Linked DNA regions of Homo sapiens: region 1 is linked to region 2. The links come from fine-mapping of genetic effects on gene expression. Tissue or cell type: cerebellar hemisphere. Region 2 holds a variant in brackets; the other region holds the start of a gene. All regions are shown on one strand. Distances are from middle to middle.

Region 1 (2,500 bases), 36 kb before region 2:
ATAGTTGCATTTTTTTTTTTTTTAAGAGAGGCAGGGTCTCCCTTTGTTGCCCAGGCTGCAGTGCAGTGGTGCAATCAGCTCACTATAACCTTGAACTCCTGGGCTCAAGGGATCTTCCCCTCTCCACTTCCCAAGTAGCTGGGGCTACAGGTGCACACCGCCATGCCACACCCAGCTTATTTATTTTAGAATTTTTGTAGAGACAGGGTCTTGCTGTCTTGTCCAGTCTGGTCTCAAACTCCTGGCTTCAAGTGATCCTCCCTGCCTTGGCCTCCTAAAGAGTTGGGATTACAAGGCCGGGCGCAGTGGCTCACACCTGTAATCCCAGCACTTTGGGAGGCCGAGGGGGGCGGATCACGAGGTCAGGAGATCGAGACCATCCTGGCTAACATGGTGAAACCCTGTCTCTACTAAAAATACAAAAAATTAGCTGGGCGTGGTGGCGGGTGCCTGTAGTCCCAGCTACTTGGGAGGCTGAGGCAGGAGACTCCAGCCTCAAAAAAAAAAAAAAGAGTTGGGATTACAGGCATGAGCCGCTGAGCCCAGCCACAGCTGCAATTTCATTAGATTGAACGGTGTGAAATCATCAGTAGTGGGCCACTGTTTTACTCCCTGCATTATTCAATCATGATTGCTTTCAGACTTTCATTAGTTTCACTAGCTTCGCGCTGTAAGAGCCAAGAGGCAGAGCCACAGGGCTGGGCTGCCTGGTTTCACTCCCCACTGCAGGGCTCGGTTAAGCAGAGTGTAGGCTAAGAGAGGAATGGAGAAGGTGGAAGGTGTCTCTCCCTTCCAACGCTCATCTGATGCACCAGCCAAACCAAATACCACCTGGGCCTTTGAACATTGCCAAGCCTCATCCGCTGTTGTCATTTTGCCCACCTCCACAGCTGCAGGGACAGCCGTAGGCCCGGAACTGGGATATCTCTTCCTAGGGGCCTGCCTATCTGCTCAGCTGCACTGCGTTTTAGGGGTGGGGAAGCTAAGGCACGAGATTGGGGTCCCAAAGCATGCCCAGACCACCCAGGCTTCCAGATACTAGGTCCTCCTCCTTCAGGCCTCACTTCGTTGCTTTTCCCCTGGGCTCAGTTCCAGTCCTGGCTGTAAGACTGGGAAAGCCACTGCTTGAGTCAGGACCTCATTGGCTATTTTTGTCCGTGAGAAGTCCTCTACACCACGACTTGGGAGGCAGCCTGGGAGAAAGAGAAATTAGTCGTGGCTCCTTTAAGGGGTCCGCGGAGGCGCGCCCGGCCTTTTGTTTGAGCGGCGGCGCGCGCGTCAGCGTCAACGCCAGCGCCTGCGCACTGAGGGCGGCCTGGTCGTCGTCTGCGGCGGCGGCGGCGGCTGAGGAGCCCGGCTGAGGCGCCAGTACCCGGCCCGGTCCGCATTTCGCCTTCCGGCTTCGGTTTCCCTCGGCCCAGCACGCCCCGGCCCCGCCCCAGCCCTCCTGATCCCTCGCAGCCCGGCTCCGGCCGCCCGCCTCTGCCGCCGCAATGATGATGATGGCGCTGAGCAAGACCTTCGGGCAGAAGCCCGTGAAGTTCCAGCTGGAGGACGACGGCGAGTTCTACATGATCGGCTCCGAGGTAGCCCGGGGCGCGTTCTCGCCCTCCCCGGGCTCGGCCCCGCGGGAGCCCCGGGGCGGGCCCATGCGCCGAGAGCGCGCGTCTCCATTCATCGGGGCGGGCGGGCGCGCGCGCGCGCGCTCGGGGCTGTGGGGCGTGGCCTAGTGGGCGTGTCGGGTGTGGCCCCCGCCCCCTCATCGACCTGGGATTTCCTTACTTATTTCGCCGAGGTCCGCCGCCTTCAGTGCTGCCAAGATTTTGGCGCCGCGAGGGGCCCCAGTGGTTCCGCGCTGGGTTGGTTTCCAGTCAGACGCAAAGAAACGGGATATTGAGTTAGCCCCTGCGACGCTTGGGGGACTGCACTGCTGCCTTTGACCCTTTTTAGATGTCGTAAATTTCACGTGCACCCCTCCCCGTATTGCTACTTGTGGGAACCTCAAATGGCAGGCTGGAAACCCTGGACTTAGTGAGGGCTCATCCCCATTGTGTTTGTTGCCTCTTAGGTGAGCAGTGGAGGTCTTTTGACCTTTGTTTACCGGTGAAGAAACAGATTGGAGGAAGATGTTTGCTTTTGGGTGAATAAGGGCCCCATGCCTAAGCTAGATCTTTCAGCAGTTCTGAAGCGATTGACACTTTCCATATCTGTGAACTGATTCTGAATTATTACAGGGGAAAGAGCCTAAGGATGTTTAACCCTTAACTAGAGTGGCTGCATTTTGTTGCATCAACTGGATGACTGACTTCAGGAAAACTCTACTGGCCTTTGAATGGGTGTTTGTTCCAAGTCTATTAGGTTCTTGTTTTTTGTTTTTTATAGAGACAGGGTCTGGCTATGTTGCGCAGGCAGGTCTCCAACTCCTGGGCTCAAGCAGTCTGCCCGTCTGGGTCTCCCAAAGTGCTAGGATTACAGGCATGAGCCACCACACCCGGCCATA
Region 2 (2,714 bases):
AGAATCTTTGGAGCCATGGCACATGAGGACCATCTCTCTCCTCAGAAAGAGTGCCTTAGGTTAGAGCAGCATCTTCCAGATATTCTTGGCAATGCTGGGACCAAAGCCCAGGCCTGGCTGCCCTTGCCAGGGCACCTGGCCCAAGTCGGCTTTGCCCAGTTCCAGCAGGGGTTGGGGGGCAGGGGAGGAAGCTGGGGACATGGTGCTGCTGCAGTTTGAGCCATCAGACCCTGTGGCACTGTCCAGGCCCCGTCCAGAGAGTGCATGGGGTGAGATGTGAGTCAGGGCTGGGGAGGTGGGCAGGGGCCTGGCCCTGCTGTGCACCTGCTTGGGAGTCCTGGCCCCGTCTTAGCTCTGTGAGTCCACCTGGAGTCCAGCACTCCTCACTACCCCACCAAGGCCACTGCCAGATGGCTCCCTTCCTCCCTCCCCGCCTTCCAGTAGAGGTCTCAGCATGGCAGCTCAGCCCATGTCTCTTGTCTGCCCAAAATACCGCAGAAGCTTCCCACATCCCTCTGTGGAAGCCAAGCCTGTCCAAAGGCCTCAGGGCCCTAACTGCTCTCTGCTACAGTCCCTCGCCACCCTCATCTCCTCCCTTTTCCCCTCACTGGGCAGATCCGGGTACCAGACCTTGGCTCCTCAGTCTTTTACATCTCTGTGTCCCCCACCTGGGACTGTTCTCCCCCAGGGAGCCACATTCCTGCTCCCTGGGCACATTCACTTCTTCCTAAAGGCCACCTTCCTAGAAGCCTTCCTGGCCTCCTGACTTCTGAGGCCAGCCTGGACTTTCTCCCCCTCCCTCCCTTTCCTCCCTGGCACTCCCGTGCTTTCTGGTACACCACATGCTCACTTAACCTACTTAGTGTCTGTCAGTGCCCCCACCAGCATAGCTTTTTTTTTTTTTTTTTTTTTTTTTTTTTTTTTTTTTTTTTGACACAGAGTCTCGCTGTGTTGCCCAGGCTGGACTCAAACACCTGAGCTCCAGTGATCTTCCCACCTCAGCCTCCCAAGTAACTGAGACTACAGACATGTACCACCTCACCTTTCTCAGAACAGCCTTTTGAATGTTTGTCTCTCTTGTGCCTCTCCTTGGTAGACACACAGTCTAGACTTTGGAATAAATGAATGTGTTAGTGACTGAATGGCAGGGGACAGGCAACTCCATCCATGAGCCCAGGGCAGGGAGGGCTTGCTGGGTGGGAGCCATGTGCCTATGGTCCTATGGGGTCCTGTTGGGTGGTTCCATGGGCTGTCTGCTGCTGCACGTTCTTTTTGGACCCAGCACCCACGTGGTTTGCTTGGCATTAGATTCCAGTTGGGAAGGGCCAGTGCCTCCGATTCCATTCATCATCAGGCGTGGGCGTATGTGGAGATAGCAAAGGACATGGGGGCCCGACTGCAGTCCCCATTGCCTGGCTGCATGCCGTGTACAGGACACTGCAGCTCTGCCCTCGGCTTCCTCCCTCTGCGTGAGGATTCCTTCATTCCCAGAACAAATACACCCTGCCTGTGCTAGAATTCCTGGAGGCAAATGATTCAGATTGTTTCAGACAGTCCTAAGTGCTGTGAAGAAAATAGGAGAGGTGCCAGCATGGTGGCCCGCACGTATAGTCGCAGCTACTCAG[G/GAGACTCC]AGACTCTCGGGGGAGGATCTTTTGAGGCCAGCCTGGGCCAACACAGAGAGGCAGCAGGGAAGCCTGCGGGGAACAGAAGGCTCAACCACAGGGTCTCTTCTCTGCCCAAAACACTTGATACATTGCCTGGGCCTTGTAGAAACCTTGTCTCTACAAAATATTAGCCAGACATGGTAGTGCATGTCCGTAGTTCCAGCTACTCAGGAGGCTGAGGCAGAAGGGTCTCTTGAGCCCAGGAGTTCAAGGCTGTAGTGAGTCATGATCATGCCATTGCACTCCAGCCTGAGTGACAGAGTGACATCCTGTCTCCAAAGGGGGAGAAAATGGAGAGAAGGGTGTGGAAAGGGGCTGATGGGAAGGGGAGCTCTCAGGAGCTGGCACTTTAGCTTAGACCAGGATGCTGAGAAGAGGCTGGTCCTGCCAGGTGAGGGGAAGAGCATTCTAGCAAGTGGGTGGTGATGTGCAGGGCTCAGAGGCACAGGGCTTTATGAACATGATCGGGGATTGGGGTACCCTAATCTCTAAAAGGAGGCAGAAGTCCCCGGAAGGGCTGGACTCCGAGGCAGTGGTGAGTTTTCCCTGCAGCTGCCCACCCTGATCCTTGACTTAAAAGCTAAGGGCCAACAATGAATGGGCAGGTGCACTGTGACCTGGTTGCCCTGTGGAGCACTGGATAGCAGTGAGGGATGACCCCAGCCCCACACTCTAATGGGAGGAGTCTTGCAAGCATGATGCAGAGTGAATGAACCTGGACCCCGAAGTGTCCATCCTATTCAGAACAGCCACACCTACTCAAGGGGTGAGAAGTCAAAATGGTGCCTCCCCAGGGGGGCAGGTGTAGGTGGGAGCCCCTGGGGTACAGTCTGTGTTCTCTCAGCTGGGTGCTGGCTTCCCAGGTGTCCACTAGTGGAAAACCCCTGACAGCACACCCGGGGCCTGGGCCCTCTGGCTGTGAGTCACGTGCTGCAGGGAGTCCTCTGGGGAATGTGGAGGAGCTGGCCCAGCACTGTGATCCCTGCAGGCTTCCCTGTCCCCTCACCGTGTTGACCCAGAGTGGGGTGCATCTGTGAACACGCTAGGCAGGGTTT

What was found. PIP is the estimated chance that this variant, and not a neighbour inherited with it, causes the effect.
Region 1: it holds the start of SMARCB1, and the variant in region 2 is fine-mapped to the expression of SMARCB1 in cerebellar hemisphere (GTEx, PIP above 0.99).

The regions. Positions count from the first base shown.
Region 1 is chr22:23,785,677-23,788,176 of GRCh38, forward strand. SMARCB1 (SWI/SNF related BAF chromatin remodeling complex subunit B1) reads left to right here and starts at 1,290. Exons shown (of 9, transcript NM_003073.5): 1 at 1,290-1,586. The coding sequence starts at 1,494.
Region 2 is chr22:23,822,067-23,824,780 of GRCh38, forward strand. All of the region lies in intron 6 of SMARCB1 (SWI/SNF related BAF chromatin remodeling complex subunit B1), which reads left to right. Among named protein-coding and RNA genes, the nearest start is that of DERL3, 16 kb to the right of the region's middle. RefSeq lists an enhancer at 2,617-2,714. The variant G/GAGACTCC (reference allele first, on the strand shown) is at 1,626.